3 linked regions of the Homo sapiens genome follow. The protein of the gene in region 1 binds, or shares a complex with, the protein of each later gene. Each region holds a gene or a part of one and is shown in the gene's direction. Other genes may lie near its edges. The genes, in order: BANF1, EMD and LMNA.

Region 1 (3,812 bases):
CTGTTGGCCTTCTTAGTTTCTCTCCAACCTCCCCTTTTCCCTAGTTTATAAGACAGGAGAAAAGGGAGAAAGCAAAAAGTTGGAAAGAAACAGAAGTAAGATAAATAGCTAGACGACCTTGGCACCACCACCTGGCCCTGGTGGCTAAAATAATAATAATATTATTAACCCCTGACCAAAACTACTGGTGTTATCTGTAAATTCTAGACATTGTATGAGAAAGCACTGTAAAACTTTTTGTTCTGTTAGCTGATGTATGTAGCCCCCAGTCACGTTTCTCACGCTTACTTGATCTATTATGACTTTTTCACGTAGACCCCTTAGAGTTGTAAGCCCTTAAAAGGGCTAGGAATTTCTTTTTCGGGGAGCTCGGCTCTTAAGACACGAGTCTGCCGACGCTCCCGGCCGAATAAAAAAACCTCTTCCTTCTTTAATCTGGTGTCTGAGGAGTTCTGTCTGCGACTCGTCCTGCTACAACAGAATGGGACAATACAATGCATGTCATGTAAAAGTAACTCCGGCCGGGCGCGGTGGCTCACGCCTGTAATCCCAGCACTTTGGGAGGCCGAGGTGGGCGGATCACGATGTCAGGAGATCGAGACCATCCTGGCTAATACGGTGAAACCCTCTCTCTACAAAAATACAAAAAATTAGCCGGGCGTGATGACGAGCGCCTGTAGTCCCAGCTACCCGGGAGGCTGAGGCAGGAGAATGGCGTGAACCCGGGAGGCGGAGCTTGCAGTGAGCCGAGATCGCGCCACTGCACTCCAGCCTGGGCGACAGAGCAAGACTCCGTCTCAAAAAAAAAAAAAAAAAAAAAGTAACTCCTATAATCTTAAGTACTAGTGTAATATAAAACTATACGCATGCTCCAGAGAAGTCATCCTGGCAACCTCTCTGGAAGGAGTTTGAAATAAACCGTATCTTTCTCAACACGCTTGTACACCCCAAGTCTAGCATAGTCACACAACAGAGAAGTTCAGTCTGGCAACACACTACAGCCGGAGACAAACTAGGTGGCCACCGTGATGGTTCAAGCCAGGAACTAGTTAATTAAAGGTTGAGGTGAGCAGGCTTGTCTGCGACATTTGCATATTTCTGACTTGCGTACTTAGAAGACGAAGGCCAGTACCCTTAAGACTGATGGTTTCCGAAAGAAACACTGTCGTCTCTAGTTGCTGTCCTCCTTCCTCCTCCCTGTCTATCCCGGAGAAAAGACCCTCAGAGAAACACCCACACTTAGTCTCTGGCCCTCGGCTCCCAGGAACGCTGCCGGAGCAACACCGCCGTCTAGGCTGGACGCTGAGAGAGGATCGTCCACGACTCACTTCAAGGCTGAACCAAGAAAACACAGTAAAGGAACTTGCCGGCGGCCGCGACGGTAGCGTCAGTTAGAAATCAGGTCTCCAGTGTTCCCAGTTCCCACCAGTCCAACTGCGAGGAGTGCGACGTGAGTCTGAGTCTGATCCCTCCGAAAACCGTACTTCCGGCGCTGTCTCGGAGGCCTCCCGTCCCCTCCCTTGTCCGTCTTCTAACTCTTCCCCACGCCAGGTCCGTCAAGCCTAAGTCCTTGAGTTCCGGGTCCGGGCAGCAGAGAAAGGAAGTCCTCTCCCTGGAGGCCTATCTCCCTCAGAACTGCGCGAGAAGCGAGACCTTAGAAGGCAGGGCTTCCCGCGAAGGACCGGAAAGGAGCGCCTACTAAGGACGCCGTCGAGGTCCGGGGCGCCTCAACTCTATAGCTCTAACTGGCTAGAAGTGCCCAACGTGGAATGTTTCTTTTTTAAAGGCGGCTCTTGAAGCGACCCGGAAGCGGAAGTGGAAGAAAGTTCTAGTGGCTTGAGGTATCCGCAGGAGCGGCCGGGTGGCGGGAGGAACCGTTACGGGAACTGAAGTTGCGGGTGAGCGCCAGCCGCGGAGCAGGGCCCTGATTGGAGGCCAGAGGGGTTGCGGGGAGAAGGGGAGGAGAGGGGTCGCAGGCGCTGTGGCGGGCCCTGGGGGAGAGCTTGGCCGCGCTGCGGGGAGGGGGCGGGGTGCAGCGCGTGGGAGCCGGGCCGCGGGAAGGGGCGGGCCGCAGCGGCGCGCGGTGGGGGCGGAGCTGGGGCGCGGCGTGAACCCCGCGGGCGGGGAGCGGGTGTGCGCAGCGCTAGGTGTGCGCTTCGCCCTGTAGGTAGAGAGACCCTTTGGTTAGCTTTCCACGCCAAGTGGCCGTTCCAGGCAGGCAGTGTCGTCTTGGTTCAGCCAAGGTCACAGAGGGAGTGATAGCTTCCGCGCAGCCCTGGCTACGGACTCTGGGCATCTTTCCACTGCCCCGCTTGCGCCACCTGTTAGGCAGGATCGTTTTTCCTCTGGGGCAAGATCAAAATCCAGGTCCTGCAGGAAGAAACTCCTCTTAAAAATAGTAGGGAAGAGTCTCCCTGGAACTGTTTTCTCCTTTCAGGATGAGGGGGATCGAGCAAGCCACTGTAACCCCTGGCTTGGCTTCCTCTTACTATGAGATTGCTCGTGGGCCCTTAGAAGTTCCAGGTCTTCAGCCCTAATCTGCCTTTTTTTTGGGATTCCTAGATTAAGCCTGATCAAGATGACAACCTCCCAAAAGCACCGAGACTTCGTGGCAGAGCCCATGGGGGAGAAGCCAGTGGGGAGCCTGGCTGGGATTGGTGAAGTCCTGGGCAAGAAGCTGGAGGAAAGGGGTTTTGACAAGGTGTGGGGTGGCTGCGTGTACCTAGTGCAAGCGGGGGGTGGAAGGGAAGTGATTCCATCTGCTGGGGGATGGACAGTAAGGTATAATCTGAAGAGGCTGCCAGAGCCTGGGCACCTGGTGGAGAGGAGAGGGGGGCAAAACCCGCGCTGCTTCCTGGGCTTGTGTGCTCTGAATGGCACAGGAATGGCTGTCTTGCTCTTATCTCTCACTGAGCACTGAGCAGCACGCTCCTTCCTTTTCCCTGTTTTGCAGGCCTATGTTGTCCTTGGCCAGTTTCTGGTGCTAAAGAAAGATGAAGACCTCTTCCGGGAATGGCTGAAAGACACTTGTGGCGCCAACGCCAAGCAGTCCCGGGACTGCTTCGGATGCCTTCGAGAGTGGTGCGACGCCTTCTTGTGATGCTCTCTGGGAAGCTCTCAATCCCCAGCCCTCATCCAGAGTTTGCAGCCGAGTAGGGACTCCTCCCCTGTCCTCTACGAAGGAAAAGATTGCTATTGTCGTACTCACCTCCGACGTACTCCGGGGTCTTTTGGGAGTTTTCTCCCCTAACCATTTCAACTTTTTTTTGGATTCTCGCTCTTGCATGCCTCCCCCGTCCTTTTTCCCTTGCCAGTTCCCTGGTGACAGTTACCAGCTTTCCTGAATGGATTCCCGGCCCCATCCCTCACCCCCACCCTCACTTTCAATCCGTTTGATACCATTTGGCTCCTTTTTTGGCAGAACAGTCACTGTCCTTGTAAAGTTTTTTAGATCAATAAAGTCAGTGGCTTTCATGACTGGGCTTTGTGCACTGAAAAGCAAGTGGGCTGGGAGTTGCCTCTCCTTCAGGGACTGACCATGTTTCCCTCACTCCTTATCAGTAGAGACCGAAACTGGCAGCTTCCCTTCCACTCCCAGAGGGCAGCCACCCTAGCCATGTAGGCCTCAGGCAGGTGACTTTTGTCTCAATCCCCGAGTGATGTGGGAGAGGGTGTGGGTGGATCTTTTCCTGGGAGCCAGATGGACTGTGCTCCAGATGTCAGTTAAGTCAACAGCTGGGCTAGGCAGCACCTGGTGGAAAAGTCAGTGGGAGTCAGAGGTACCAGACAGGGTGGGCCGGATGTGGGTGAGA
Region 2 (3,812 bases), on another chromosome or scaffold:
GAGGTGCTGGGGAATCTGATTTTGTCAAAACTAAAAAATCCACAAGGCAGCCTCTGAGCAGCCCAGAGTCCAAACTGCCATCTGTCCCCTCAGCTCTGAAAGATGAGGTGCAAACCCCTGCCCTACCCAAGGCTCTCCTGCTGCACACTGCCAGGCACTGTCTTCATGGACCCACACTTCCTTCCATATTGCTGGGGACACAGTGGGGCCTTGCCAACAGTGATTCCTCTTTGTTAGGATCTTTGCGTGTAGTCAAAACAGGGCCCCATCTCCTCATTACTCCCCCAGGTGTCTACCTCTTCCCACCCCATGGGCAAACCTCCATGGATGACTGGTCTGTGACCCTCACCAGCCAGGCCAGCCATTCTGGACATGACCAGAGCCCTCCCCTCTTCTTCCCTTGTCACCAGCCCTCAACTGTGAAACTACAGATGGCATGTCACCTCTTCATGCTCCCAGTTTGGGGCCTACCCAGTGAGGGGCACACTAGTTGATTCCATACACCCTCAGCTGGCTTTGTTTAGAATGTGAATGTCACAGCCAGGCGCGGTGGCTTATGCCTGTAATCCCAGCACTTTGGGAGGCCGAGCCGGACTGATCACTTGAGGTCAGGAGTTCGAGACCAGCCTGGCCAACATGGTGAAATCCTGTTTCTACTAAAAATACAAATACTAAATACTAAAAATACAAAGCCAGGCATGGTGGCATGTGACTGTACTCCCAGCTACTCGGGAGGCTGAGACAGGAGAATCACTTGAACCCGGGAGGTGGAGGCTACAGAGAGCCAAGATTGCACCACTGCACTCCAGCCTGGGTGACAGAGCGAGACTGTCTCAAAAAAAAAAAAAAAAAAAAAAGAATATGAATGATGAATGTCACCTCCTTTCTCTTCTCCATGAGACAGCCAATATCTGATCAAGGCCCTGGGAATGGGAATCCATAGCTCGCCACCCACGTCTGCCCCCTGCCTAGCCACGCTGCGCTCAGGGACCATTCCGACAGGAGAGGACGCCCCACTTCAGCTCCCCCCAGTGCCCCGGGTGAATGAACGGCATGAAGGGTTAGGCGGGCACACGTCGTCTCTGCACGCATCGCACGGCGCCCTCTGCCCGCGCCCACTGGCGTGCCCGTCGGCATGCCCGGGCCCCTTCGAAGACTGCTTGCTTCTGGAGTGCCAGCGGCCTCCTGGCCCAGTGCCCCATTTCCTCCCGGGTGGAGCGAGGGAGGAGGAAGGGAAGCAGAGGGGTAGGCGGTGGTAAGCAGCAGGCACATGTGCGCGGGCGAGAGCCCCGCAGACTGGGAAGGCGGGCCCATGGCAGGGGGTCTGCGGGGATCGCGTAGGCGCGGGCCTTGCCCTGCAGCCGCTTCCCGGGCGATGCGCACACAAAGCGCCCTCGGCAGCGCCTGGCCCGGGGCCCGCGCTCTCTTAGGGTCCGGGCCCTTCCCGCCGCTGCTGGGGCGGCCGACCGGGATGCGGCCGGGGAACCCTAGGCTCTGGGGCCCTGGGAAGGGGGACGACGGCGGGGAGTAGGGATGTGCAGGGATCGGGCGAAGCCCAAGCGACTTAGGGACCAGAGCCACCCCAAGCGCCGACTTCGCCCGCTCGCACGTCCCGGGTCCCTCGCGCGCAGGCCCCGCCCCTCTCACCCCGCCGCACGCCACAGGGTGACGTCTGGGCTCCCAGCCGCATCGCCCTGACTCCCGCGCGGGCCCCGCCCCCTGCCGCTAGCCAATCTGTGCGTTTGTGACTTTTGGGCCCGCAGCCCCGCCTGCTCCCACAGCGATACCGGTTTGCATTGCCCTGACTCCCGCGCGGGCCCCGCCCCCTACGCCGCTAGCCAATCCATGCATTAGTGGCGTCCGGGCTCGCAGTACCGCTCGCTCCCACCGCGAGACCTTCTGCTCCGCGCCCGCGCGGGCCCCTCCCCCTCCATCGCTAGCCAATCCCCGTTTTGTGACGTATGGGCTCGCGGCCCCGCTCGCTCCCACCGCGAGACCTTTTGCTCCGCGCCCGCGCGGGCCCCGCCCCCTCCATCACTAGCCAATCCCCGTGCTTGTGACATATGGGCTTGCGGCCCCGCCCGCTCCCATCGCGAGACCGGTTCCCACCGCCCTGACTCCCGGGCGGGCCCCGCCCTCTCCGCCGCTAGCCAATCCTCGCGTTGATGACGTTTGGGCTCGCGGCCCCAGCCTCCCAGCTCTCAGGGCACGGCCGGTCTGTGCCGGCTGCTCCCGCGGTTAGGTCCCGCCCCGCGCAGCGCGCGCAGCCTGCGGAGCCAGCGGCCGTGACGCGACAACGATTCGGCTGTGACGCGACAACGATTCGGCTGTGACGCGAGCGCGGCCGCTCCCGATGCGCTCGTGCCGCCCCCGCCGTGCTCCTCGGCAGCCGTTGCTCGGCCGGTTTTGGTAGGCCCGGGCCGCCGCCAGGCCTCCGCCTGAGCCCGCACCCGCCATGGACAACTACGCAGATCTTTCGGATACCGAGCTGACCACCTTGCTGCGCCGGTACAACATCCCGCACGGGCCTGTAGTAGGTACGCGGCGGCGGGCGGGACCCCTTCCGGGCCCCCTCCTCGTGCTCCGCCTCGCGACCTCCCCGCTGCCCTCCCCGCGCGCCTTCCCCGGCCCGCGGCCCTGACCGCCCCGTGTCCGGCCAGGATCAACTCGTAGGCTTTACGAGAAGAAGATCTTCGAGTACGAGACCCAGAGGCGGCGGCTCTCGCCCCCCAGCTCGTCCGCCGCCTCCTCTTATAGCTTCTCTGGTGAGAGCCTCGCCTGTGGGGACAGCCTGGGACGCGGGGAGGATGGGGTCGCGAGGGTGTGGCAGGGGGGCCGGTCGAGAGCGGCACTGGAGAAAGGGGAGGGAAGTCTGGGGGGGCAAACAGTTCTGTCTCCTCCTTTCAATCCAGACTTGAATTCGACTAGAGGGGATGCAGATATGTATGATCTTCCCAAGAAAGAGGACGCTTTACTCTACCAGAGCAAGGGTAAGGCAGGGGTTGGGTGGGCACGCTGGCACCTTCACCCGACTTCGTCAGGGACCCCGCTCACAGGGAGGACCTGAGACCTCAGTCCCAACCACTCCAGCAGCCTTAGGAGGGAGAAACTGTTACAGGTCCCGAAATGGGATTCAGATTAGGGCCATCAGGCCAGGCGGGGCACACCGATGCCCCCTCTGCTACCGCTGCCCCCCTTCCCAAGGCTACAATGACGACTACTATGAAGAGAGCTACTTCACCACCAGGACTTATGGGGAGCCCGAGTCTGCCGGCCCGTCCAGGGCTGTCCGCCAGTCAGTGACTTCATTCCCAGATGCTGACGCTTTCCATCACCAGGTGAGCTGGCTGGCAGGCGTCCTGTACTTGGGTACAACCTAGGGGATCGCGGCTGTGTTTGGATAAATCCAGGGGGGCACTGGGTACAAATGGTGGCTCTTGGGCCTCCGGGGAGACTCTGTGTGACTAGAGCACCCTGGTCTGGGATCTAGGCTCAGACTCTTCCTGAGAGTCCTGGGGGCAAAAGGGGATGCTGGGGCATGAGCACAAGTGGCAAGGCCCCATGGATAAAGGGCTGAACACCCAGAGCCATTCAGGAGGGTGTGGGTTCCTGGCCTCTAACCAAAGGTCAGAGGGGACTGGCTGGGGAAGTTTGGACTGAGGGACATGACAGGGCCATGGTGGCCCTGCCAGCCAGTCCCCTCGCCCTGACTCTCTTCTGCAGGTGCATGATGACGATCTTTTGTCTTCTTCTGAAGAGGAGTGCAAGGATAGGTGCGTAGTGGGGGAGCCCAGGGACGGGCTGGTTCTGGG
Region 3 (3,600 bases), on another chromosome or scaffold:
GTTTAGCTTTCCCAGCCTGGAAAGGAAGCCAGGCCAAGCAGCTGGGTAGGGGAAAAGGGGGCACTGAGTGCCAGGGAGGGGCTGAGGCAGTGGGAACAGCATGAACCCTTCCCTCACGTTTCACTGGCTTACCCCTCCTGCCTCTGCTTCTGGTGTGGAGAAGAACAAGACTTTTTATTGTCTGGGAAGCTGAGGGTGGGTGCCACGCCCTGGGGGAGAGAAGCCATATTCTGGGCCCCCTCATCCGGGTGCATCCCTAGTGCTCACCATGCTGCCCAGGCACCCTCACTGAGATGAGAACTTTCCTTGTTCCCCTCCCCTAATAACCAAAGTTCCTGCCTTAATCCCACTCCAGTCCCTCATCCACCCCGAGGCCAGGCTTCAGAACCCAGAACTGAGGGCCTGTCCAGCCCTGCTTTCCTTGTGTTTGAGGGAAGCCCTGATATCTTGGAGCTGTACAAGGTAGCAACATAATTTGATTTCCCTGGTTGCTCATCGGAGGATAAGCTGTGGGAGGCAGTTGGGCAGGGCATGCAGGCAGATGGGACCCAGGCCTCAATGCTGTCACCTCTTAGAGAGGATAAGGTGGGACGGGCATGGTGGCTCACATCTGTAATCCCAGAACTTTGGGAAGCTGAGGCAGGCAGATTACCTGAGGTCGGGAGTTTGAGACCAGTTTGGCCAACATGGTGAAACCCCATCTCTACTAAAAATAAAAATAAAAAAAAAATTAGCTGGGCTTGGTGGCAGGTGCCTATAATCCCAGCTACTCAGGAGGCTGAGGCAGGAGAATCTCTTGAACCCGGGAGGTGGAGATTGCAATGAGCTGAGATCATGCCACTGCACTCCAGCCTGGGTGAGAGAGCAAGACTTAATCTCAAAAAAACAAACAAACAAACAAAAAAAACAAACAAACAGAGGATGAGGTGGATGGTGGGACCAGGATAGGGGCCAGGATGAGGGGAGGGGAGTGGAAGGCTTATCAAAAGGGTCCTTGGTGAGGCCTGAGGATGGAGGCTCCAGAGCCTGAGGTAGCGAACCCTGGGGACCTGAGTGATCTCGTTTTGTGAGAGAGCCTGGCCCCTCCCCAGAGCCAGCTGCAGAATGGACCTGGCCAGAGAGGAAAGTAGAGATGAGTATGGTGCTGGCCTTTGCAGCCAGCAAGGCTGTGGGGTCTTTGCTGTTCCTGTCCCCCACTACCTTCTTGCCCCCCACTACCTTCTTTCTGGCTGAAACCAGGATAGAGACCCAATATTGGCTGTCCAGCCCCCAGCCCTGCTTCCCCTTTCAGGCCCCTCTGGGAACCACAGAAATCTGGGACCTAGTGTCTTGGCAACGTAATGAATGCATGCACAGCTCTGGTATCTGTTTTAAATTATCCATTAAAATAAGTACAGTTCTGGGGGAAAAAAATAAGTTGACTGGGTGCGGTAAGCAGTAGAAAGGGACTGAAGGGGGAAGGAACCCAGGCAGTGCTTGGGTCCAAAGGAAGGGGACAGGAGATGGAAGGGGCAGTGCCTGGCTCCTATTCTTGGCTTTCTTTAGGGGACTTCTTTAGGGGACTGTGGCTTGTTGCTTGGGTCTAAAAACGAATGCTTGGCTTTGAAGAGAGATAGATTGGGGCAAAAGAAAGAAAAAAAGGGACCCCCCAAACTCCTTGATCCCTGGCCCCAAACTGGGGGCATAAAGGAACTCAGGTTCCAGAACTTTGCTCCCCCCAGGGAACCCAGGCATTCCTTCTCCACCCCACTCCTGGCACACTGAGATGCAGCTCTGAATGGGCTGCCCACGTGTGGAGGGGGGTTGGGGTGACTCACTATTACTACTGGGAGGACAGGGGGAGCCAGTGGTGGAAGAAGGGTGAGTCACACTGATGGGCACCAGCCTCAGCCCTCCCCCCACTTTCCTGGCTCCCAGCCCTGCCTACCTGACCCTCTCCCTTGCTTTGCGCCCACTTCCCTCTCTTTCTCCCCGACCCTTTTGCCCACCCACTCTCCCTCCTTGGCTCTGCCCTCTAGCCCAGAAGGTCTGAGGCAATGGGGGCAAGCTTGGAGCCGACAGTGCTGAGCAGGCAGGAGCCAAGAGAGGGGAAGCTTGAGCCTCACGCAGTTAGGGGTGCGCTGGAGAGGGTGGGGCCCGACTCCGCCACACCCCAACGGTCCTTCCCCCTCCTCACCACTCCCGCCCCCACCCCCAATGGATCTGGGACTGCCCCTTTAAGAGTAGTGGCCCCTCCTCCCTTCAGAGGAGGACCTATTAGAGCCTTTGCCCCGGCGTCGGTGACTCAGTGTTCGCGGGAGCGCCGCACCTACACCAGCCAACCCAGATCCCGAGGTCCGACAGCGCCCGGCCCAGATCCCCACGCCTGCCAGGAGCAAGCCGAGAGCCAGCCGGCCGGCGCACTCCGACTCCGAGCAGTCTCTGTCCTTCGACCCGAGCCCCGCGCCCTTTCCGGGACCCCTGCCCCGCGGGCAGCGCTGCCAACCTGCCGGCCATGGAGACCCCGTCCCAGCGGCGCGCCACCCGCAGCGGGGCGCAGGCCAGCTCCACTCCGCTGTCGCCCACCCGCATCACCCGGCTGCAGGAGAAGGAGGACCTGCAGGAGCTCAATGATCGCTTGGCGGTCTACATCGACCGTGTGCGCTCGCTGGAAACGGAGAACGCAGGGCTGCGCCTTCGCATCACCGAGTCTGAAGAGGTGGTCAGCCGCGAGGTGTCCGGCATCAAGGCCGCCTACGAGGCCGAGCTCGGGGATGCCCGCAAGACCCTTGACTCAGTAGCCAAGGAGCGCGCCCGCCTGCAGCTGGAGCTGAGCAAAGTGCGTGAGGAGTTTAAGGAGCTGAAAGCGCGGTGAGTTCGCCCAGGTGGCTGCGTGCCTGGCGGGGAGTGGAGAGGGCGGCGGGCCGGCGCCCCTGGCCGGCCGCAGGAAGGGAGTGAGAGGGCCTGGAGGCCGATAACTTTGCCATAGTCTCCTCCCTCCCCGGAACTGCCCCCAGCGGGTGACTGGCAGTGTCAAGGGGAATTGTCAAGACAGGACAGAGAGGGAAGTGGTGGTCTCTGGGAGAGGGTCGGGGAGGATATAAGGAATGGTGGGGGTATCAGGGACAAGTTGGGGCTGGGGCCGGCCTGAATTCGGTCAGATTGGGATTTGCCAACTATTTGGAGCCGGGGGGAGGGGCTTGAGCAAAACAGAACTAGCCCTGCCAGCTCGAAGAACTCTGGGCACCCAGGACACATCGGAGTGGCAGAAAGGGTCCTGTTAGAACTTTGTTAGCGGGCTTGGCACTGTGCTAGCTTTGCCCAAGCTGGCTCTGAACACATGATGCCCACTAAGACATAACTCTCAAGTTGGCATCTGTCCAGCGTGTTGGAGCGAGGTCAGGAAGGCAGGGCAATCCCCCTTTTCCCTCCCAAGGGCTTGGCGGTGGCCCCCCCTCAGCATGACCTTGTCCTGGGTTCTAAGGGTTGGGAAGTTCTCCCTCACTCTGCCACTCTGCGTGTCTGGGACCTTCCTTGGGCTCTGACAGGCCCACCAAAAGAGCTCCGGGAGATGAGAGATCGGCTCCCCCGCAGCTCCCACAGCCCTTGGCCTGCTTGGCC

Evidence for each region.
Region 2: the proteins of BANF1 (region 1) and EMD are in contact, whole or in part, in a crystal structure (PDB 7NDY), measured with the Homo sapiens proteins. Residues at the interface, in NP_001137457.1 of Homo sapiens: Arg37, Phe39, Gln48, Val51, Leu52, Lys53, Asp55, Leu58, Glu61, Trp62, Asp65; in NP_000108.1 of Homo sapiens: Pro22 (codon at 2,519), His23 (codon at 2,522), Gly24 (codon at 2,525), Pro25 (codon at 2,528), Val27 (codon at 2,534), Ser29 (codon at 2,663), Thr30 (codon at 2,666), Arg32 (codon at 2,672), Leu33 (codon at 2,675), Tyr34 (codon at 2,678), Lys36 (codon at 2,684), Lys37 (codon at 2,687), Glu40 (codon at 2,696).
Region 3: the proteins of BANF1 (region 1) and LMNA are in contact, whole or in part, in a crystal structure (PDB 6GHD), measured with the Homo sapiens proteins. Residues at the interface, in NP_001137457.1 of Homo sapiens: Val11, Ala12, Glu13, Pro14, Glu83, Asp86, Ala87, Phe88; in NP_001393912.1 of Homo sapiens: Ser431, Gln432, His433, Ala434, Arg435, Met540, Lys542.

Annotation. Positions count from the first base shown.
Region 1 is NC_000011.10:66,000,673-66,004,484, forward strand, and holds BANF1 (barrier-to-autointegration factor), read left to right. Parts: upstream 1-1,830; 5' UTR 1,831-1,898; exon of another isoform or gene 1,899-2,398; intron 2,399-2,562; 5' UTR 2,563-2,578; coding exon 2,579-2,701; intron 2,702-2,953; coding exon 2,954-3,100; 3' UTR 3,101-3,477; downstream 3,478-3,812. UniProt on the Homo sapiens protein: Non-specific DNA-binding protein that plays key roles in mitotic nuclear reassembly, chromatin organization, DNA damage response, gene expression and intrinsic immunity against foreign DNA.
Region 2 is NC_000023.11:154,377,030-154,380,841, forward strand, and holds the start of EMD (emerin), read left to right. Parts: upstream 1-2,265; 5' UTR 2,266-2,455; coding exon 2,456-2,537; intron 2,538-2,660; coding exon 2,661-2,765; intron 2,766-2,912; coding exon 2,913-2,990; intron 2,991-3,204; coding exon 3,205-3,338; intron 3,339-3,723; coding exon 3,724-3,773; intron 3,774-3,812. UniProt on the Homo sapiens protein: Stabilizes and promotes the formation of a nuclear actin cortical network. Stimulates actin polymerization in vitro by binding and stabilizing the pointed end of growing filaments. Inhibits beta-catenin activity by preventing its accumulation in the nucleus.
Region 3 is NC_000001.11:156,112,425-156,116,024, forward strand, and holds the start of LMNA (lamin), read left to right. Parts: upstream 1-2,286; 5' UTR 2,287-2,494; coding exon 2,495-2,850; intron 2,851-3,600.